Homo sapiens: one gene and its partners. The protein of the gene in region 6 purifies or fractionates together with the protein of the main gene of each other region. This does not show direct contact. Each region holds a gene or a part of one and is shown on either strand. Other genes may lie near its edges. The genes, in order: RNMT, ZEB1, PPFIBP1, HMCES, DYNC2LI1, TRIM58 and TMOD3.

What was found.
Region 1: the proteins of TRIM58 (region 6) and RNMT purify together in Homo sapiens (co-immunoprecipitation; one large-scale study listed by IntAct). This does not show direct contact.
Region 2: the proteins of TRIM58 (region 6) and ZEB1 purify together in Homo sapiens (affinity purification with western blotting; one study listed by BioGRID). This does not show direct contact.
Region 3: the proteins of TRIM58 (region 6) and PPFIBP1 purify together in Homo sapiens (co-immunoprecipitation; one large-scale study listed by IntAct). This does not show direct contact.
Region 4: the proteins of TRIM58 (region 6) and HMCES purify together in Homo sapiens (co-immunoprecipitation; one large-scale study listed by IntAct). This does not show direct contact.
Region 5: the proteins of TRIM58 (region 6) and DYNC2LI1 purify together in Homo sapiens (affinity purification with mass spectrometry, with the first as the bait; one study listed by BioGRID). This does not show direct contact.
Region 7: the proteins of TRIM58 (region 6) and TMOD3 purify together in Homo sapiens (affinity purification with mass spectrometry, with the first as the bait; one study listed by BioGRID). This does not show direct contact.

Annotation. Positions count from the first base shown.
Region 1 is NC_000018.10:13,750,673-13,754,172, forward strand, and holds part of RNMT (mRNA cap guanine-N(7) methyltransferase), read left to right. Parts: intron 1-1,653; coding exon 1,654-1,755; intron 1,756-3,441; coding exon 3,442-3,475; intron 3,476-3,500. UniProt on the Homo sapiens protein: Catalytic subunit of the mRNA-capping methyltransferase RNMT:RAMAC complex that methylates the N7 position of the added guanosine to the 5'-cap structure of mRNAs. Binds RNA containing 5'-terminal GpppC.
Region 2 is NC_000010.11:31,525,216-31,527,759, reverse strand, and holds part of ZEB1 (zinc finger E-box-binding homeobox 1), read right to left. Parts: intron 1,089-2,544; coding exon 496-1,088; 3' UTR 1-495. UniProt on the Homo sapiens protein: Acts as a transcriptional repressor. Inhibits interleukin-2 (IL-2) gene expression. Enhances or represses the promoter activity of the ATP1A1 gene depending on the quantity of cDNA and on the cell type.
Region 3 is NC_000012.12:27,530,706-27,534,205, reverse strand, and holds part of PPFIBP1 (liprin-beta-1), read right to left. Parts: intron 1-3,500. UniProt on the Homo sapiens protein: May regulate the disassembly of focal adhesions. Did not bind receptor-like tyrosine phosphatases type 2A.
Region 4 is NC_000003.12:129,302,870-129,306,686, reverse strand, and holds the end of HMCES (abasic site processing protein HMCES), read right to left. Parts: intron 2,099-3,817; coding exon 1,862-2,098; 3' UTR 501-1,861; downstream 1-500.
Region 5 is NC_000002.12:43,805,039-43,807,774, forward strand, and holds part of DYNC2LI1 (cytoplasmic dynein 2 light intermediate chain 1), read left to right. Parts: intron 1-115; coding exon 116-208; intron 209-1,172; exon of another isoform or gene 1,173-1,353; coding exon of another isoform or gene 1,354-1,373; intron 1,374-2,736. UniProt on the Homo sapiens protein: Acts as one of several non-catalytic accessory components of the cytoplasmic dynein 2 complex (dynein-2 complex), a motor protein complex that drives the movement of cargos along microtubules within cilia and flagella in concert with the intraflagellar transport (IFT) system, facilitating the assembly of these organelles.
Region 6 is NC_000001.11:247,870,687-247,874,186, reverse strand, and holds part of TRIM58 (E3 ubiquitin-protein ligase TRIM58), read right to left. Parts: intron 1-3,500. UniProt on the Homo sapiens protein: E3 ubiquitin ligase induced during late erythropoiesis. Directly binds and ubiquitinates the intermediate chain of the microtubule motor dynein (DYNC1LI1/DYNC1LI2), stimulating the degradation of the dynein holoprotein complex.
Region 7 is NC_000015.10:51,836,153-51,839,652, reverse strand, and holds part of TMOD3 (tropomodulin-3), read right to left. Parts: intron 1-3,500. UniProt on the Homo sapiens protein: Blocks the elongation and depolymerization of the actin filaments at the pointed end. The Tmod/TM complex contributes to the formation of the short actin protofilament, which in turn defines the geometry of the membrane skeleton.

The DNA of each region.
Region 1 (3,500 bases), on a different chromosome or scaffold from region 6:
GTGCGTGTAGTCCCAGCTACCCAGGAGGTTGAGGTGGAGGATCACTTGAGCTCGGGAGGCCAAGGTTGCAGTGAATGGAGATCCTGCCACTGCAATACAGCCTGGGAGACAGAGCAAGACTCTGTCTCAAAAAAAAAAGATGCTAGTTTACATCTGATCTTTGACAAACCTGACAAAAACAAGCAATGGAGAAAGGATTCCCTATTTAATAAATGGTGCTGGGAAAACTGGCTAGCCATATGTAGAAAGCTGAAACTGGATCCCTTCCTTACACTTTATATAAAAATTAACTCAAGATGGATTAAAGACTTAAATGTAAGACATAAAACCATAAAAACCCTAGAAGAAAACCTAGGCAATACCATTCAGGACATAGGCATGGGCAAAGACTTCATGACTAAAACACCAAAAGCAATTGCAACAAAAGCCAAAACTGACAAATGGGATCTAATTAAACTAAATTAGATGTACTTATGCACAGCAAAAGAAACTATCATCAGAGTGAACAGGCAACCTACAGAATGGGAGAAAATTTTTGCCGTCTACCCATCTGATAGAGGGCTAATATCCATAATCTACAAAGAACTTAAACAAGTTTACAAGAAAAAAACAACCCCATCAAAAAGTGGGCAAAGGATATGAACAGACACTTCTCAAAACACGACATTTATGCAGCCAACAGACACAGAGGAAATGCTCATCATCACTGGTCATCAGAGAAATGCAAATCAAAACCACAATGAGATACCATCTCACGCCAGTTAGAATGGCGATCATTAAAAATTCAGGAAACAACAGATGCTGGAGAGGATGTGGAGAAATAGGAACGCTTTTACACTGTTGGTGGGACTGTAAACTAGTTCAACCATTGTGGAAGACAATGTGGCGATTCCTCAAGGATCTAGAACTAGAAATACCATTTGACCCAGCAATCCCATTACTGGGTGTATACCCAAAGGATTATAAATCATGCTGCTACAAAGACACATGCACACGTATGTTTATTGCAGCACTGATTCACAGTAGCAGAGACATGAAACCAACCCAGATGTCCATCAATGATAGACTAGATTAAGAAAATGTGGCACATATACACCATGGAATACTATGCAGCCATATAAAAGGATGAGTTCATGTCCTTTGTAGGGACGTGGATGAAGCTGAAAACCATCATTCTAAGCAAACTAACACAAGGACAGAAAACCAACCACCACATGTTCTCACTCATAGGTGGGAGTTGAGCAATGAGAACACATGGACACAGGAAGGGGAACATCACACACCGGGGGGCCTGTCATGGGGTGGGGGCCTGGGGGAGGTATAGCATTAGGAGAAATACCTAATGTAAATGATGAGTTGATGGGTGCAGCAAACCAACATGGCACATGTATACCTATGTAATAAACCTGAACGATTTGCACATGTACCCTGGAATAATATACCCTAGTATAATATTTAAAAAAAATTGGTTTAAGAGAGGATTCTTCCTTTTTTTTAATTTTTTTCTGTATTTCAAAAGTATGTATAGTTTGTATTCCTGAAGTAGTACTTACGGATTATTCTCCTAATTATGTTATTTCAGTGATTTAGCATGTTTAATTCTGAATTGTAAATTTCCGTTATTGTAACTAGGACTTTCATTTCTTTCCCCAGCCATATCCTGCAAATGAGAGTTCTAAACTTGTCTCTGAGAAGGTGGATGACTATGAACATGCAGCAAAGTACATGAAGAACAGTCAAGTAAGGTTACCTTTGGTAAGTTTTAATTTATGAAAGTATTTTATAGAGAATGAAAAAAAGAACATGCTTATATGGAGACATAGGAAATGATTTCACTTGTTTACAATACTTAGGCTCACTGACTTACAAATCAGTTGTTTCCACTAAGTGATGTTGACTTGTTATAACCACAGAATATGGAATAAAATTTATTTCAATGGACTGAGAATGGAGTGCTATATCTAAGGCAATGAGGACAGTGAAAAAATTACAGGGTTGGTGTGCAAGTTCCCTGCTAATGTAGGCACCAATGAACCACAGCATTTCATACATAGAATGCAGCAGTCCAGGAATTTAAATGGGAAAAAATTACATCTTCACCTATACTAATTTCTGCGTAAAAGTTTACATTTTAAGAATGATTACTACAATAGTACCACAGTGGTATTAGCTGCTGCTGTGACTTTGTCATCAGTAGAAGTTACAGATATTTTCATAGCACATTTTTGCTAATATCTTAGAATATTGTTTTCATTTATCACATCTGGAAAAATGACATCACTAGAACTGCCACTAGATCTTGTTATTATAGTTAATGGTGTGTGCAAAGCAACACATATCTTTAATATTTTGATAGCTACATAAATATAATTTATTTCCTTTGTGTGATATGTACTTTATTTTGTTATTCCTTTGAAAAAACACAAAAATTGTATTTTTTCCACCAGTGCTGTTTGATATTTCAAGATAGGCCTTTTTTATTTTTTCATTTTCCAAATTAAGAATACAAGATAGGGCCGGGTACAGTGGCTCACGCCTGTAATCCCAGCACTTTGGGAGGCCGAGGCAGGTGGATCATGAGGTCAGGAAATCGAGACCATACTGGCTAACAGTGAAACCCTGCCTCTACTAAAAATACAAAAATTAGCTGGACGTGGTGACGGGCCCCTATAGTCCCAGCTACTTGTGAGGCTGAGGCAGGAGAATGGGGTGAACCCGGGAGGCGGAGCTTGCAGTGAGCCGAGATCGCAGCACTGCACTCCAGCCTGGGCGACAGAGCCAGACTCTGTCTCAAAAAAAAGAAAGAATACAAGATAGGCCGGGCGCAATGGCTCAACGCCTGTAATCCCAGCACTTTGGGAGGCTGAGGCGGGCGGATCACAACGTCAGGAGATTGAGACCATCCTGGCTGACACGGTGAAACCTCGTCTTTACTAAAAACGCAAAAAGTTAGCTAGGCGTGGTGGCGGGCACCTGTAGTCCCAGCTACTCGGCAGGCTGAGGCAGGAGAATGGCATGAACCCAGGAGGCAGAGCTTGCAGTGAGCCAAGATCACGCCACTGCCCTCCAGTCTGGGCGACAGAGCAAGGCTCTGTCTCAAAAAAAGAAAAAAAAAATAATACAAGATAGATGCATTTTCCAGTTACACACACACACACACACACACACACACACACACAATGCCCTCTTCACACACATTCACCCTTTGGATGAGAATTTGAGAATTTGGCAGGAGGATAAAAGTCTGAGAAGATGACTTTCAAAGTGAATCTCACCGATTTCTTTTATATGCTCAGGTCACAATATGATTAACAGTGAATCGAATGTGTATTTACAGTGAAGTTAGGGTCTTTTGGCCATCTCTGCCCATTATTTAGAAATAAGCATATGTTTACTTCCATATTGAATCTAAAATTTTCTTTTTCTCTTTTGTAATTTTAGGGAACCTTAAGTAAATCAGAATGGGAAGCTACAAGTGAGTATATCATCAGCATAGATTA
Region 2 (2,544 bases), on a different chromosome or scaffold from region 6:
TTCTCACATTTTAAAAAACATAATAAAATACTGAAGCGGATTTAGCATATGTTTACCAATAAAAAATTATAAAATTTCTCCCAATTGTACAGCTTAAGAATAAACCAACATAAGAGTGATAATACTGATAAGATAAAACAATGCCAGATGCATATCTAATTAATCAGCTTCCTTTAACCTCTTGTATTGTTGCTCTCTGAGTCATTAAGGTTTTCTAATCTGCTGCATGTTACAAACTTGTTCCTAACTTTGAAAACTGCATGAAAAATTACTAGGTCTGAGGTTCAGGCACACCCGGATTTATTTTGTGTGTGTGTGTGTGTGTGTGTGTGTGTGTGTGTGTGTGTTTTGTATTTTGTATTTTTTTAGTTTTTACTTTACACAGTAGTGAACAGGAATCACAGCATACAGGTTACTGTGTTTCCATGAAAAGCAAGGATAATATTGAACGAAATTCATTATCAATTAGAATTTATTTTCCTTCTAGAAAAACGATTAGGCTTCATTTGTCTTTTCTTCAGACACTTGCTCACTACTCTCGCCTACTTTTTGTCCTAAGCTGCTTGCTTGACTTTCAGCCCTGTCATCCTTCATCAGACCTTCAGTTTTTGCTTCTTCTCCCTCATTCTCTGCCTCTTCTACCTCTTCTTCTTCCACTTCTTCCTCCTCCTCCTCCTCTTCCTCATCCCCTTGTGGTTTTTCACATTCTTTTTCTTCCTGCAATTCTTCCATCTCTTTATCCTCCTCCTCTTCCTCTTTTTCACTGTCTTCATCCTCTTCCCTTGTCAAACTCTCTCTCTCGTCCGAGTCGCCCTGTGAGGGAGACGCCCTGGCACCCACGTGCTCATTCGAGAGGATTTCAGGCCCTGCCTCTTCCTGCTCTGTGCTGTCACGTTCTTCCGCTTCTCTCTTACAGTAGGAGTAGCGATGATTCATGTGTTGAGAATAAGACCCAGAGTGTGAGAAGCGCTTTCCACATTTGTCACATTGATAGGGCTTTTCTCCAGAATGTAATCGCATGTGTTCAATCAAATGATGTTTGTGTTTAAATGCCTTTTTACAGATTCCACACTCATGAGGTCTTTTACCTGCAAAATAAGAATTCTGTTAAATAAAATGGTGGTATTCAGCAAATAAAATCCTTATACGGTTTTTGGGGTACTTCATGTTGTAGAAAGGGGAGGGTTATTAGTTTCATTTTTAAAACATTTCCAGGTCCCAAACTCTTTGTAATATAATATTGCAATTTGGTTTGTTCTTTACATTAAAAAACGTAGTGCTCTACACTCTGCTGTGCAGATGATTAGGTCAATGGGAGCTACATGACATTGAAATGCCAAAAATACAAGCATCATGACAGCGAGGTGGAAAATGGGCCAAGTGCAGCTGGGAGGAGATGTCTGGTAGTGAACGAGCACAGTGAGGGCAGACAGGGACAGACTTGCTGCTCACCTTGTGTTCATTATCACTACAAGGTCCCTTTTTAGTCATTTTGTTTTCCTAGTCACAAGCTCTGCTCCCAGTGAAATTTTAATGTTTACTATACACTTTTTATATACGATAAAACTCATAAATATACAGTATATATACTGAGCTTCTTTAGAAAACCACAGCCATTGTAGTATCTCAGACTTTTTTGCCCCCTAAGAAACAAGTTTTGGCCCGTGAGGGCAATATTGCCCCTCCTGAGAACGCATGGGCTACAGGAGTGTTGCTGCCCAGACATGAAAAGGACTGGCAACAACTGATCATAGTCAGGATCGATAATGTCCAATTTCAGAGCTATCAAGCAGTTAACACTAACAAATGCAGAAATGATTTTTAATTTTAGAAATAGTGTAGTTTTTCATATATATTTTTCACTTTGATATTTGCTAATATTTAACTTTGCCTGAAGAGGAAGGGGATTTTCTAACTCTTCTTAGATCTCTGAAAACCAGAGGACTGAGTTACAAGGGGCTGATTTTGAGAGGTGTGACTTTCTCTTATGTAACCAGTTTTTAGCTCCAAGAACCTTCCAAGTGTCACTGTATGAATCCACAGATTGAAGAAGGAAAAACAATTCTATCTTTTCTCACAAGAGTAAAAAATACACTGAAACAGTTAAGAATATGAAAGATAAATATGGATACTGTAGTCATAATGGCTGGTAGTGGGGGCAGGGAAGAGCAGGTAGGGGATTAAAGAGCTCAGGATAAACCCAGCCCCTTCTACAGCAACCCATGTTAGAGAGAGACACAGGAGTGTGCTGGAGCCAGTTTGTACTGGCTGGAGAGAGTCTACTGCTAAATTTTCAGGAATTCTGCAAGCTGACATCACATTCAAGCTCGAAATCCACCATGATGGGAGTATTTATGCCACAAAAAGCTGCAAACACTACAAATCAGGGCTTCCCCACCCTTCAGAGAACCAGGTGTTAAAATTTATCAGTACTTCACTGATGGAAGGAATGAAATAGGCCAGGAGTTGGCAACTATTTTCTGTAAAGGGTAGTGAGTATTAAAGGCTTTGCAGGCCAAATGGTCTCTGTAGTAGCTTCTCAAT
Region 3 (3,500 bases), on a different chromosome or scaffold from region 6:
TTTGGGTCTAGCCCCATCTCTCTACCCTGGACCATGCACTCATTCCTTCCTCCCTTTTTCTTCTTTTAATATCCTCCTCTCTACCTGAGCCTTCCTCAAACCCAAGCTATCTACCATGTCTCTCTCGGATCAGTTCCTTGAAAGGATGAACTAACCAGGCCACCTGCAGTTCATCAGCCCCCGTGTAGTCCTCAATTTTTTGCATTCTGGATTCCAGGTTCATGAACTGACCTGACAGCAGGACCAGGGACAGTCTGTTGGATACAGCTTTGTAACGAGTCTGTTGCACTGGATGGCATGATTAGTTCACTTACGTTGTGCTTCTTCCCTTGGCCACCATCATCCTCCACTTCTCTGCAGATCCTGCTCTATCTCCTCTCCTAACTTCTTTTTTGCCTGACCATTTCTAAATATCAGGAGTCCCCTGAAGACTGTATGCTTGCTTCTCTTTTTACTCTACATACTCTTGTTCGGGGAGCTCAACCATTCTCACTCTTTACATAACAGCCCTATAGAGATGATCCATTAGTCCAGGCTTTGGCCTAAACTCCAAGCCTAAATTTCTAAATTCTTGCTTAACATCTTCATATGAATAATGTCAACTAACAGTTCATACTGGCTTTTAACACCCCAAGTACAGAACCATGCCAGAGGTAGGACTATGAAGAGGCTGAAGATACTGGCCCTGGAGCTGCACCTGCCTGAGTTCAAATTCTGAGTCTGACACACATGATCTGTGTGATCCTGGGAAAGTTACTTAGCCTCCTTGTGCCTCAGATTCCTCATCGTAATATGGGATTAATCTAGGTTGAAATATTTAAGGTGCTTAGAGTAGTGCTTGGTACATAAAAAGTATAACCTACCAGGTAAGTGTTACCTATTATTATTGTTATTCTCCTAAAAACCTGATAAGATAGGTATTATTATTTTATCCATTTATACAATGAGAAAATTAAGGATAATGTGGGTCATGATGGAATTTCAAACTCCAGATGTTCAAATCTTAACTCATATTTCCCATTAAAATTCAACTTTCACTTAGCCAGGCATGGAGGCATGTCCCTGTAGTTCCAGCTACTCGGGAGGCTGAGTCAGAAGGATTGCTTGAGCCCATGAGTGCACAATGATCACAACTGTGAATAGCCACTGCTCTCCAGCCTGGGCAACATAGCAAGACATCATCTTTAAAAGAAAATTAACTTTTGTATACGGGCCATTCTTGATTTAGGGTGTTCTGTCCTTCTCCCTCCCCTTGCCCATATACCCACTAGAAATACCCAATCTGCTATTTCCAGAGTCATTTTTATAAAACAATAGTTCCCTTACTTCTTCTTTTCTTAAAAACATCCTGTTTTAAGGTACAATCTTGTCACTCTCTTTAAAACCCTGTAAGATTTGCCCCAATATAGCTTACGTCTTTTCAAACAATATTGTTCTCTCTTTTCTCTAAATCGAATCTCACTCTATTCTACATTTTGCTCCAAACCCAAGTATGCTCATCTGTCCCCACTGCCTCCTCAAAATCTCCTCCCCACCCTTTAAGACCCAGTCAAATCCCACCTCTTCTAATGAAACCTCAAGAAACCCAGTCTCTTCCTTTGCTCTGGTGACTAGTCTAGTTCACAGAATGCTCTTCCCCAACCAACCTCCAAAAGGACCAATAAATAGATGTTTAAAATTTTAACATATTTTGTATTTCTCGAGTAATGTAATATAGATGTAATATACTGTAAAAAAAAAAAAAAATACAAAGTTCCCTTCATCCCAACTCCCATAAGCCATCCCACTTGGCAGTTTTTCATGCACTGACAAATGTAAACCATACACGTGTGCTTGGTTTTTTACTTCTTAAAATATATATAATAGACATCTGTACAAGTCAGTATATTCAATCTTTTTAACAGCTAAACAGTATTCTAAATCTGCATTTTATTACAGTTATGAATAAGGTGTGCCATCTCTTTCTGCCCCCATCTCCTGTATGTGAATACTCTTAAGGTAAAGATCATGTTTTGTTTGTCTTTCCGTCTCCAAGAGGATCTTGTACCAAGGCTGGGAATTGCTTAACACGTGCTTAATGAAATAGTAACAACAATATCTGTCATCAAAGCAGTGCATGTCGTGTGCCAAGAAACCAGCTGTTAGTGCTTCACATACATTATCAGATGTAATCTTCATAACCACCCAATTATTCCCATTTCACAGAAGACTTAACCAAAATCACACAGCTAGTAACAACAGGGGATTCTAATCCACATCTGTCTGACTCTGGAGTCCCCGCCCTTCATCCCTATGCTATAGTTAATAAAATTTTTATAAGGACATCCTTATAAACCAAAGCTGGAAAACAGAAGAGTTCCAAGTAGTCTGGTGTGGGCAGGTGGGAATGAGGATAAGAGACAGGAGGCGGAATAAATGCCAAGTAGATGGAGTCAAGGGATTGTAGCTATAAACCTACCGAGAACCTTCTAGGAGAAAGAGCTGAATTCTTTGCCTCCCCCTTTCAGACTCCCCACTACACTTCCCTTTGGTAACAGTGCCACCATTTGTTGAAGATCTTCCATGTGCTGAATATGCCATTATTATTCCTATTAATAATTTCTGGCCGGACGTGGTGGCTCATGCCTGTAATCCCAGCACTTTGGGAGGCTGAGGCCAGCAGATCATCTGAGATCAGGAGTTTGAGACCAGCCTGGCCACGATGGTGAAACCCTGTCTCTACTAAAAATACAAAAAAAAAAAAAAATTAGCTGCTCATGCTGGTGGGGACCTGCAATCCCAGCTCCCTGGGAGGCTGAGGCTGGAGAATCGCTTGAACCCAGGAGGTGGAGGTTGCAGTGAGCCGAGATTGCAACACTGCACTCCAGCCTGGGTGACAGCACGAGACTGTCTCAAAAAAAAATAATAATAATTTCTAATTATTTCTAATCCTTCAAAAAATGCTATGGCACATATATCAGAGCTACCATTTTATAGATGAGAAAGCTGAGACCCAGAGAGGTTAAGTTACTTGCCAATATTAGACTGTAATAAATAGCAAAGCCAGGATTCAAGTTGAGGATCTGCATGGCTCCAAAGTCCTGTTTTTCTCGTACAAAATAACACGTTTTTATTTTTAAAGAAAAGATGAACTATGATTTTTAGACATCTAGACTCAGTTAAGATCACATTTGGCTGCAAGTAACTGACCCAAGTTCTGTGGTTTAACCAAGTAGAGATTTTATTTTTCTCACAGAGTCAAGAAATGGGTCCAGTAGAGCAGTTGCAGAATGCTATCAGCTTCTCAGCCTCCTTCTAACCTTCCACCCACTCATCCTTAACCCTCAAGCATCTTGTCTTTGGTCACGCGATGGCCTGCTTACTTTCTCCAGGGAAGAAGTACAAAGAGCAAAAGGCTTAACAGGCAAGCTCACAGAGGCTTCCCCTTTTAAGAGCTTTGGGGAACGGGGCATCCAGCTATTTACATCTCATCAGCCAGGACTACTGTCACTGAACCACCT
Region 4 (3,817 bases), on a different chromosome or scaffold from region 6:
ATACTGTATGCTCTCAGACATAAGGATTTGCTTTTTTTTTTTTTTTTTTCTGAGACAGAGTCTCACTCAGCTGCCCAGGCTGGAGTGCAGTGGCGTGATCTTGGCTCACTACAACCACCGTCTCCCGGGTTCAAGCGATTCTCTTATCTCAGTCTCCCAAGTAGCTGGAATTACAGGCACCCAACGTCATGCCCGGCTAATTTTTGTATTTTAGTAGAGACAGGGTTTCACCATGTTGGCCAGGCTGGTCCTGAACTCCTGGCCTCAGGTGATCCACCTGCCTTGGCCTCCCAAAGTGCTAGGATTACAGGAGTGAGCCACCTCGCCCGGCCAGGATTTGCTTCTAACATCACGTTTATATGAAAGTATAAAAACTTGAATGAAAAGGAAACAAGCCCCTGCAGGCATTATATTCTTTCATGTTAAAATGAAAAGACCTCACCAAACTAATTTGCAACCATGAGAAACAGTGGGGAGATGATAATGAAAAACAAAGGGAATTTCATTTTTGTCATTTATTAACCTGGAAGCAAATATGACAAAACAGTCATACTAGTAAGTCATCTGAATTTTTTAAATCTCTTAATAAAACAACCAAATCCCACGCAAATCAGTCCACAAGGGAGGCCCCCGCCTCCACAGTGCAGGGTGACTGAGTGTACAACTACGGGCCAACCCCCGCCTCTCAACCGGAAGGGAGGGCACTCAAAAGAGGAATTTAGAGAAAAGGCGGAGAGGGCGGACCTCGGGAAAGGGTCTGGGCGGGAGCCCCACCTGGCTCCCCACCCCTCCCGAAACCAGGGGAAAAGCCTGTGGCGTGGCGCTGCTGTCTCCCATTAGCAGTTACAGGGCCGAGGCTTCCCGCTGATTGGTGGAAATTCCGATCTTCTGATCCCTGATTTGCATAGAGACTGGGGCCTGCACCCCCGCCCCCCACCAGCAGCAATCGGCCAACGCCAACGGTGCTGCGCCAGGAGCGTTCTGGGCTCGGCGCCGCCCAGTCCTCCTGGTCATCTCGGAAGCTGTTTTCTTCCAGCTGCTTGGGACAGCTTTTGTGAATGCCTCCCTTAGGGATGTTCGAAAGAGGAGTGGCCCGACACTGCTAGAAACTGGTCCTTTCCTTCCCACCTGTGGTAAGGATAGTTTCTGCTACGGCAAGCACTCAAACTCAGGCTGGTTTGAAGCTAAAGGATTCAGACGACTTCCAAGTATCAAGAATGAAAGAAAAAGAAACATAATAAGGAGCCCACCACCAAGACTTGTAGTTATTTCCTCAGAAAGCCCCCATGCCCCATTTGTGACAAAATCCATTCCTGAAGACTGATTCTAGAAGAAACCAAGTAAGATCTAGAACTTTCCCCACCAGCATCACTTTCCAAAATGTAGGCAGAAGTTTACCAAATACAATTTATTCAGGAAAAAAATAAATTTTAAGAACTTATTTTTATTTTATTTTAGAACTTAAAAATAAATTTTTAAGAACTAAAAAAGTGAAAGAGCCCAGTGGCTGAGCAGAAAACAGCTTACTACAAGGAGTACCAGATCAGGGCAGAGACTTCCCAGCTGGGTAAGGCATGCTTTGAGGGAAGACTCCACCAGCCCTGCCAGGAAAGGGCAGCAGGCGCAGTGCCCCTATGGGGCCCACATGGCTGGTAACAGCAGCAGGACACCTCTTCCAAAGCTGTCCACCAGCCCCACTAGGGGCTCCTACTCATGGCAAAAAAGACTACATGAGCCCACAACTGTCAACTAACACAGTGCCACCTCCTCCCAAAGCAAACACATATACATACAATGTTAAGAACCTATTATCAGAACAGCAGTGCAGCAGACCCTGGCCTTGGTCTCTGAAAGTCCTGTGTCACTGGCTGTAAGGACGCTTGGCCACAGGTTCCTCCTCCTTCTCCCGCTTCAGCCATTGCTCTAGGAGTCCTGCAGTGCCTCTCTTGGTGGGGAGTGGACTCTTCTGCAGGAACTGACTGGACCACTGGGGAACATCTGACTCTTCCTTTTGAGGTGTTTTTGAGTCTTCCTTTTTGGGTGACTTTGTGGCCAACCACTGCAACATCCTCTGGCTACTGCCACTTGCCCTGAGCTCCTACAAGAAAGAGGAAAAAGCTCAAACCATACAGCTCAAGCTTTTGGGAAAAGGCCAAGTCCAAGGGAAGAAACAGGGGAAGAGGCATTAGGTACTTACCCAGGCTTGGAAAATGTTACTAAGGGCCAGCTGGGGCCCACCAGTCAAGAGTGGAAAGAGAGGAGTGTGCTCTAAGGGGCAGGAAAGTAGATCTTAGAGAAGGTTTCACAGAGGATTGTGTGGGACCAGCCAGAGAAGAGAGCTGAAAGGCATTCCAAATGTGCAGAGAATGAAGCATTCTCAGGGAAAAGAATGTAATTCAGCATGACCCAGGGGGAGTGTTGGAAAACGAGACTGGAGAGATACAGAAGAATTTCTAACAGCCACTGTGATAAGGCTAAATTGTTTCCTCTTTGTGCAGACAATCTGTACAACCTCTTCTTGACTGTCACTACTCCCTTCTGCTTCCTTTACATCACACCCCAATCCTGAACTGAAAGGTTCTGAATTAGCACAATGCCACCTCTCCAGAATGTGACATCTTTTGGAGTAAACACCATGGCAGGGCTAGGTACAGTGGTGCATGCCTGTAATCCCAGCACTTTGGGAGGCTGAGGTGGGAAGATCGCTTGAGCCCAGGAGTTTGAGACCAGCCTAGGAAACATAGGAAGACCCCATCTCTATAAAAAATTTAAAAAAATGAGCCAGGCATGGTGGTGTACGCTTGTAGTCCCAGCTACCTGGGAGGCTGAGGTGGGAGGATCATTTGAGCCCAGGAGTTCGAGGCTGCAGTGAACTATGATCATGCCACTGCAGTCTAACCTGGGCAACAGAGCATGACCCTGTCTCTAAAAAAGAAAAAGGAAAAAAAAAAAGACCATGGCAGAAATGGGCAGCGTCTAGTCCAAAATGAATACAGGTTGAGCATCCTAACCCTGAAAATCCAAGATCCAAAATGCTCCAAAATCCTAAACTTTTTAAGTGCTTACATGACTTTGAAAGGAAATGCTTGTTGGTACATTTCAGATTTAGGATATTCGGCTAGGAAGTATATAATGCAAATATTCCAAAATTTGAAAAAATTCAAAATCTAAAACACTTCTGTTCCCAAGCATTTTGGATAGGGATATTCAACCTGTATATAGAATTAGTTTTAGAGTTATCTAATTTTTAAAAAGTGCCACGGTTGCAGGAGTTTATCAGAATCAAAACAAAAGAAAAAAAGATGACACTGTGGGTATGGAAAAAACTTTAAGAAAAATAGAGAGGGGGACAGCTGTTCTTACAATCATCCTTAACACGGCATTCTAAAATGTCTATTCTTGGAACATTCCAAGTATGTCCTATTTTAAGTCCCTCCATGCCACCTAAAAACAATCACTACTCCTAAATCCTTACCCCCAAATGTCAGTGGGGGCCAGCTTTTTGCTCTGGAACTTCTCTCCCCACTGCAGGCCTTCTGTTTGTTTGCCTTCCCTTCCTAAAATACACCCTCTGGATCCTTGCTGATTCTAAGAAGTTAAGGTTCATGGTAGGAATGCTCTCAAATCCTCCTGAAGGAGACTAAGGACTGGAGCTCCTGCAACTTGTAGTTCGGAAAGCAAAGATACAGAAAAGAGACACCAAAAATCATGGTTGGGGACGGAGAAACAATATGGTCAAGGGCTCCTTTGTCTTTTTCACCATCACTGTCTAGATTAGGAGTCCTCAAATGTGGTTTATCAGACTCATCAAAGAAGC
Region 5 (2,736 bases), on a different chromosome or scaffold from region 6:
ATCATAGAGAGCCTTTGTGGCAGGCTGAGGAATGGGAGCTTGGTTTATTAGGCAGATGGTAGCCATTGAATTTTGGTTTATGGGCGTGAAGTGATTTTGAGATTTGTAATTTCAGAGTATTAACACGCTGAAAGATATCAAGGACCCTGCGAGAGATCCTCAGTATGCTGAAAATGAAGTCGATGAGATGAGAATTCAGAAGGATCTGGTATTATCCTAAACATTTACTTAATTTCATCTGAAATTTTAACACAAAACCTGGGGTGCCTTGGGAATTCCTTACATTTTTCTCTATGTATTTACTTAGAGTATCTTCTTTACTATTAAAATTATTTAAGTAGTACATCTATTTAAATAACACACTAATAGTATACTGTAGAAAAAATAAAAATTTGATATGAATAAAGAAAAATTTTTAAATCACCTGTCATCCCACCACCCAGACATGACTTAGTGTTCACATAAACCTTTTTGATTTTCCAGTTTTCATTATATTAAAGATGAGTGGTGATTCTTACCTTGCTGCTGGAGAGACATTTTCTTAATAGTCTTTGGTTTGTGGAATTACATGAAGAGCTTTGTTTTTGATTAGGACATTCAGACATACCTATACTTTCCTTGTACTAGAAAACGTATCTTGCCCAGTTAAGGACTGAAAGCACGATCTGAAAGCACACAGACATACCTGACATAACCCAGGTTCTCTCAGGAAAATGCTTAAAAGTGGACACCACCATCCCATGTATCACTAGATAGCCCCATTTGAACACACAAGTCTGATGTAAGAATGTTAAGAGTTGGCAAATTCACCATCACTCAAATACTTAGATTTTTCTTTTCTTTTTCTTTTTCTTTTTTTTTTAAGACGAGTCTCACACTGTCGCCCAGGCTGGAGTGCAGTGGCATGACCTCGGCTCACTACAACCTCCGCCTCCCGGGTTCAAGCAATTCTCTGCTTCAGCCTCCTGAGTGGCTGGGATTACAGGTGCCTGCCACCACACCTGGCTAATTTTTTTTGCTTTTTTAGTAGAAACGGGGTTTCACCATCTTGGCCAGGCTGGTCTTGAACTCCTGACCTCGTGATCCATCCGCCTTGGCCTCCCAAAGTGCTGGGATTACAGGCATGAGCCAGTGCGCCTGGCCTAGATTTTTCTAAAAACAAACAAGCAAACTTAGATTTTAGTTTTATTTGATAAAATGAGACGTTGTACAGAATCTGTCCTTATATGAGTAAACTTATATATGCTAAGCACTAGATCGAAAGCCCCAGCAACTTCTCAGGTGGCAGTCACGTTGTTGCGAGGGTAACCTGAAAACAGCTGTCAGCTGGGAGTAGGAGCCAGGGTTTTTTTCTCAGTATTCACCTTCGGGGGCTGTTGGAGAAGTAAGCAAAACATTTTATGTAAACGGTCCAGAAGACTTTTGAAAAATATGCCATGAATATTTAGAGGTTTTATAGCTGTAGCAAAGTGAGAGGCATGTTGTAGAAACAGGAAAATGACCTTATGTAACCCTTATTATGTTTGCAGCCTGGCTATAAGGATTAGTTGGAAGTCATCCCTGATTAATATTTATCTAGGAGTCAATGATTAACTGTTGTTGTTGATAAGAATATCTGTTTATATTGTATAATGATCACTTTTATTAAGTTCATATACATCAGTATTATTAAAGGATTAGGGTATTTGTGAGCATCATGAGTTTTCACATTCAAATCTGTCTTCTCTAAATGACTTAAAACCATAAGAATTTTGTGTGGAAAAGGAAGGCAGCCCCACAGTACCCATATCACCCTTCATTCATCTCTTGTATCTCACTGCCAGCAGATCACCAATTCCTGTCATCTCTTGGTTCGAGATTTTTTTTTAACCTACCTGAAAAGTTATGCTGTCCTAAGTTTGCCTCTAAACCACTTTTATTTGTGTGGTTTTAGACGAATTGATTCCAGATTGCACACACAGGACCTTAACATAATTTTATGCTTTAGCTGTAAAGATACCCTAACAATTACCAGTGTTGTTGCTGTTATTTCATTGATAATCCGAATCTAAATTTTGACATTCTACTATATAAAATTTTTAATTTGAATATTATTTCATACTATTTCATGAGTAGTTGTGAGACCTTAAGTTGTTTCCAATTGTGTGCTGTGAAGTCAGTCCTCAAGGATCTGAGGATTGGTAGGAAGACCCCTTTCATCTTTCCTGCAGACTTAGGGTCTTTCGTGATTAGCCCTCTTTAATTATTTAAAGTTCTGTCTTTTGCCAGACTTCACATGGGCACCAGAAAATACTTAAGTAGTATTTTCTGTTTTTTAAAAGTCCTCTAGCTTTAGAGCATTCCCGATTTTAAGGGAATGCGAATGTGGAAAGCACTTGCTGAGCCCTTCTACCTCTTTTGTGTTTTTTTCTTTTTCTTTGATACTGTGTCTTGCTCTGGCATCCAGGCTGGAGTGCAATGGGGAGATCATGGCTCACTGCAACCTTGAACTCCAGGGCTCAAGGGATCCTCCCATCTCAGCCTCTCAAGTAGCTGGGACTACAGGCACACATCACCATGCCCGGGTAATTTTTTTGTTTTTTGTTGCCCAGGCTGGTCTTCAACTCCTCGCCTAAAGCAATCCTCCTGAGTTGGCCTCCCAAAGTGCTGGGATTACAGGCATGAGCCACTGTGCCCAGCTTCTTTTCTATTATTTTTGTTAAAGCAAAAAAAAAAAAAAAAAAAAAAAAAAAAAAG
Region 6 (3,500 bases):
AACCATGAGCCAAAATAAAGCATATTTCCTTATATTAATAAATTACCCAGCCTCAGGTATTTCTTTATAGCAATGCAAAATCAGACTAACATGTTAATATAGTTTGATTTTTAATATCAGAACAAATACTGTTTCTACTGCTACTGCTACTGCTACTGCTACTACCACTACCACTATACTTATTTGCCTTTAAACACTTACAGTGAACTACTTTTTTTTTTGAAACGGAGTCTCGCTCTGTTGCCCAGTCTGGAGTGCAGTGGTGCAATCACAGCTCACTGCAGCCTCCACCTCTCAGACTCAAGCCATCCCCTGACCTCAGCCCTCTGAGTAGCTGGGAAGGCACACACCACCATGCCCAGCTAGTTTTCTGTATTTTTTTGTAGAGAAGGGGTTTTGCCATGTTGCCCAGGCTGGTCTCGAACTCCTGGGTTCAAGCAATCCATCCGCCTCAGCCTCCCAAAATGTTGGGATTACAGGCGTGAGCTGCCACGCCCGGTCTAGTGAATTTTTATTGATACCCAACCTGAGTGGTCACGTAACTGCGCATTGCATTATTTTTATTATGTAACCACCCTGAGGGTCACCATTGTCATCCCTACATTACACAAGAGTAGATTCAGAGTCAAAGAGTTTATGTGGTCTTCCCAAACTCTAGAGGTAAATAACAGAGATTGAAAGGTAGGTCTCCATGGATTGTGCATTTAACACAATCTAACAGGTCATGTATTCCCAAGCCATTCCTCTTCCGGCACAGTGGTCTGCTTCATTTCTAACAAAAGAGATCTGTGAAATGGCTTTTGATATGGTCTGTATCCCATTCCTCTCCCTACCCCTTCTCTCCTAAACTCAATTCTTCATCATGATGTGACCATACCCCAACCAAACTGCGCATGTCCATCTTCCCAGGGACCTCCGTGTTGATGAATGGTTACTTGTCAGTTTGTCTTTTTTTTAAGATGGAGTTTTGCTCTTGTTGCCCAGGCTGGAGTTCAATGGCATGATCTTGGCTTACTGCAACCCCCATCTCCCGGGTTCAAGTGATTCTCCTGCCTCAGCCTCCCGAGTAGCTGGGATTACAGGCATGCACCACCACGCCTGGCTAATTTTGTATTTTTAGTAGAGACAAGGTTTCCTCAGGTTGATCAGGCTGGTCTCGAACTCCTGACCTCAGGTGATCTGCCCGCCTCGGCCTCCCAAAGTGCAGGGATTTACAGGCGTGAGCCACCGCGCCCGGCCCAGAGTTCATCTTCAATGATTTTTCTGTATCTCTCAACACTGAGAATCTACTTGTGCTGGAAAATCTCCCTTTTCCAAAGGTAACACTCATCCATGTTTCCCTTCCCTCACTGCTCACTACTCCTTGATCCTCTTTGCTGTTCTCTTCTCCTCCACCACCACCACTGGAGAAACCTATAGTCCCAAGACTTGGACTTCTTCTCTCTCTCTCACCTCACTCCCTATCTACCCGGGTGCTGGCTGGTTCATTGCTTTGATAAAATTCCATTCATATGCTGACTGATTCCCAATGCATGTGCTTAGCTTTGAACTTTACCCTGAAACTCCCTATTGTACATTCATCTGCCCACTTGATAGCAACATTTGAATATTTAGCACTCATCGCAACATCCACATATCCAAAACCCTGTGCCCTTCTTCTGCTTCAACTGTCGCTTTCCTCATCAATATAAGTGGCAATCACATTTTGCCAGTTCGCAAGATCCAAAACCTTGGAATCATTCATGGCTCTTCCTGTTTATAGCACATCATATATAATCCAACAGCAAATCTTAACAGCTCTGCCTTCAGTATATAACAAAAATCTGTCCATCTTGCGGCACCTTCCGTAATAACATCTATTCCAACACATAATCATCTCTCATCAAATTACTGCAAAGACCCTTAACTGCTTTTCCCATGTCAATCTTCTCCTCTCTGTAATTTACTTACAAGAAAGCATATAGAGTGATCCTCATAAAACATTAGTCCAATCAAACTATTTTTCTAGGTACAACTTTCAACTATGTCCTATTTCGCTCAGGGATAAAGTATCATGCTCAGCATGGCCTGCCTATCTAGCCCTTTCTTGGTCTCTCCGACCCTCCTGTCATTTACTCTGCCACAGAGTCCTCACACTGACATCCTCACAGCTCCTGGAACACACCTGCCATCCTCCACGTCAGGCCTTGGCGCTCATTTCTGCTGCCTGAATGCTTTCTTCCAGATCATATATTTGCTGGGTTATCCCCTGCAGGGCGGGGTCTTTCCTGGTCACCTTATTCAAAACTAGAACTTCTCATTACCCTTTGCATACTCTTTTTGATTTTCTTCAATATTCTGTGTCAGCCACTTACAGCCTGTGTATTTTGGTGAAGTACATATCTGCAACACAAAGCTACGGATTGTAGAGTATTTTGTTGTTGTTGTTGAATGATATATTCCAATGTTTAAAAGAATGGGTGAGATAAAATTAATCACACATTTTGAATGATTTCATTCCATAAAAACAAATATGGATATGAGGTTGCTGAGTCTGAGGGTGCCATGACGATTTTAATCAAGTTGGGCATTTAGCATACATTCATCTACCCAGGAGAACGTGGGTACTATGCTGCAGAGATGGGTTTTCTCATTAAGGGACTTTACACTCTTTCCCTCTAAGTAGTGAAGTCACTATTTAGACATAGTTTTCATTACTTGGGATAAATTAGATTTTAAAATGAAATTGTAAACAATACTGAATCTATACTGTTTTAAAGAATAATACAATCAGACTAAACACACTAATTTTTTGTGACACTGCTTATTCCTACATGAAAATAACTGACAATATTTTTGGCTTTATTGACTCACTAATTCAAGCAACTCATCAAATTCTCAGCCAATAAATTAAACCAAACTTCTTGCTAATTGATAACTTTGCAGTGCTTTCATATTGATTACTTTTAGGAGGTGGGGTGCTTTCAAATGTTTCATTTTGTCCTCCAAGCAATTTATTTTTAGCATTTTATAAGCAAGGAAATGTAAATTTACTGGAAGTAACGTTACTCATATCAGCTAATAAGAGATGACCTACAGTTTTAAGCCCATAGTCTAACCAAATGTAGACTCTATGGGTGGCCGTGACTCTGATACTGCTCATGAATATACTAATCCTCGTTCTTCTGGGCGTGGTGGTGCAGGCTCTATGGGTGGCCGTGACTCTGATACGGCTCATGAATATACTAATCCTCGTTCTTCTGGGCGTGGTGGTGCAGGCTCTATGGGTGGCCGTGACTCTGATACGGCTCATGAATATACTAATCCTCGTTCTTCTGGGCGTGGTGGTGCAGGCTCTATGGGTGGCCATGACTCTGATACTGCTCATGAATATACTAATCCTCGTTCTTCTGGGCGTGGTGGTGCAGGCTCTACGGGTGGCCGTGACTCTGATACTGCTCATGAATATACTAATCCTCGTTCTTCTGGGCGTGGTGGTGCAGGCTCTACGGGTGGCCGTG
Region 7 (3,500 bases), on a different chromosome or scaffold from region 6:
ATTGTTTGAGCTCAGGAGTTCAAGGCTGCAGTGAGCTATGATCACACCTGCACGCCAGCCTGGATGACAGCGAAAGCCTGTCTCGAAAAAAAAAATTGCTCTGAATTGACTATTATACCTAAAAGTTAATCCTAATGGTCAAATGGCAAGTCATAGGAATAAATAGACACCAAATAAGAGAAGACTGAGTGTGGTGGCTCACCTCTGTAATCCCAGCAATTTGGGAGGCCAAGGCAGGAGGACTGCTTGAGCCCAGGAGTTTGAGACTAGCCTGGGTAACATAAAGAGACCCCATCTCTATAAAAATTACAAAAAATTAGCCAGGCATGGTGGCACGTGCCTTTAGTTCCAGCTACTTGGGCAGCTAAGGTGGGAGGATTGCTTGAGCCTGGGAGGCGGAGGTTGCAGGGACCTATGATCACACCTGCACTCCAGCCTAGGCAACAGAGTGAGACCCAGTCTCAAACAAAATGGAAAAAAAAAAAAAGAGAGATACACCTATTTCTTAGCTGTCAATCTGCCAGATGCAGGGAACATACCAAAAAAGAGAAGGCATGGTCACTTCCTTCTGACATCAAAATAAGCATGTTTTGAGATGAACAACCCCAAACCTCCTTGTGTGGGGGGACCCACCCCTTATTCCAGTCCCTGTGAAATATACAGCCAAAGAAACAACATAACAAAGCCACATCTTTCACAGCTGTTTGGTACAGGGGTCACCACTCTCAATCTAACCAGGACGGATCAAATTCAATTCTTCTCCAGAAATCTGGAAAGCTGGGAGACAAAACTCAAGTTGAGACATAAGGTATCACCAAGTCTGGAGGCACTACCATAACAAGCTAGTCACCTTGAAGCTGAAGCTAAGGGGAAAGCACAGAAGGTCAGTCTGCAGGGAAGAGAATGAAGCAGGGCTGGGGCTACAGGGAAAAAGTAAAGGAGGCACCTGCCTCAGGGTGTCTCAGTATTTAATAGGGTGCAAAAAAGCTCAGCAATCAAGATAAATTACACAGTAATGCATACTATTTTTTAAAAATTAAAATTAATGTCCTAAAATGGAGCAGAGGCACAGAAAGAAGCCAAAGAGAGCCCTACAAGCAGAGAGAGGACAGAGACTTTCAAAGTGTCTGCTCTGGGTACCAGTGGTAGGTCATTTCACGGACCTCAGCAGCCTTACAATAGTAATGCAGTACAACTCCCAGCTCTGCCACCATACCATCTAGCAAGATAGCTTAAGTGGGTTTGTGTTCCCGGAGACCTAAACACCTTGACTAACATACTCTATTTGGGAAAATGAGACATGCACATAAAGTGCTTTTTGTTTTTTTCAAGAAAATATATAATTAACTGCCAAAAGAATGGTACTGGCTATTAGTGTACAGAAATTCAGAGATCACTGTGGGTGGTCAGGGAGGGACAGAATTAGCTACACAGAGAGGAGTGGAGAAGTATATACTAAACAAAGAGATCAAAGCACAGGCTGAAAAAGGTTGGAGCTGGGAGGGAATCCAGGGCAAGAAGAAGAAAAGTAAAGGGAAAGGAGCGATCTTCACACACCCTGTGTTACACAGAAGTAAGTACGCCTCCATGCTCTTCCGCCTGCAGCCCTTACATCACACGGTTCATTACACAGGAAATGTCCTTTTGCACTCTTTCTCATGTTCAAATCCTTTCACATCTTTCAGGGACCAGTTCAAGTAACATTTCTGCAGAGGCTCCCCTTGTGTGCTATACCAGATTCAGGCAGTGGGAGAAGAAAAGAGGAAACAGTTTCTTCTGAGGTAGGAGGGAAGGCTAAGGGGCTTAAAGCAGTGCCAGCTATTCTCTGGTGGAGGGCACACTATATCACTTGGAATGCTGGCCAATGTCTAAGGAAAGCAGGAAGTGAGATGACTTGACAAGGAATAATAATGGGGGTTCAAGAAAAGTGGCAGAGGAAAGGCAAGCACAGAGGGTGTGCTGAGGACTAACAGAAGAGCCCACCTGCCCCGAAGGCCTTGCAGAGGTGAAATCCTACACATCTGCCTTGGTCCATTTCTGTGTAGGGTTCTGTAATTTTTCACCAAGAAACTGTAAATCTTAGGGACAACAGGAGAAAAACAAAAGTGGGGTGGGCATGACTTTGAAATCATCACATATTTATTGCTATTTCCAGTGAAATTAGACCCCCAACTCCTCAGCTGGTCTAGCACTCAAGTGGGCACATTAAAGAGGAAAAAAAAAAAAAAGAATAGTTCCCTAAGAGTATTAACCTGGGTTAATTATAGCCCACCATGAATGAAAATAAATCTTGGGGGTTGTATCATATCTTGTCACGTTTGCCTCAGGGTAAGGGCTGCCTGAATATAAGCCAGACTCATATACATTTGAGGGGCTTCTTCTGAATATTCCTTAACTCCTCATCAAAGTTTTACCACCACACCCAGGGAATGAAAATATTTTGTTGGCTGTAATTTTCCACATGGATGGAAATCCCCTACTGTATAAGTATCACTAATAATATCCTGCTCAAAAGAATTGCTATGCTATGGTTAAGGAAATACAACAATCTTCTTACCTACAAGTCTATATATATATATATCAAACCCAGCCCTCATTTTCTTCTAGTTTACCATGTTTTTATTCACTTTCTCACAGACACTTCAGGAACTGTGTTCACTTGTATGTACTTATCATGATGTTCATGCTTAGTTATGCCCAGATATGAAACTGTTTATTTGTAGGGGGTTATCATCACTGTATATGTTACCTTAGTTTGTAAGTTTGTCTTAGTGTGTTTGTGTTCCTTCCTTAGTGAGTGGGTGCAGGTGTTGAACATATATACCCGAGGCAGTGGATATCTTTATAGCTCAAAAAGGGTGCACATCTCAGGAGGAACCTTGACTGTATTTCAGTATTTTTCTTTTTTCTTTTTTCTTTTTTTTTTTTTGAGACGGAGCATCACTCTGTCACCAGGCTGGAGTGCAGTGACATGATCTCGGCTCACTGCAACCTCCACCTCCCAGGTTCAAGCGATTCTCCTGCCTCAGCCTCCCGGGTAGCTGGGACTACAGGTGTGTGCCAACATGCCTGGCTAATTTTTGTATTTTTAGTAGAGACGGGGTTTCACCATGTTGGCCAGGATGGTCTCGATCTCCTGACCTCGTGATCCACCCGCCTCAGCCTCCCAAGGTGCTGGGATTATAGGCGTGAAAACGAATTCTTAAGAGTAGTATAAGGGTGAAAGAAGCCAGGCACAAAATATGACATATTATATGATTCCATTTATATGAGATGTCCAGAAGAGGCAAATCTTAAGAGAGAGTAGATTAGTGGTTGCCTAGGGCTGGGTGGGGGAGACCAGGGGGGAATTGGGAGGAATTAGGTAGTAACTGCTAATGGTAAGGGGTTTATTTCTGGTGTGATGAAAATGTTCTAAAATGGTGGTGATGGTTCTACAGTTCTGAATGTAGCAAAATCCACTGAACTGTACACTTTAAATGGGTGAATTGTATGGTGTG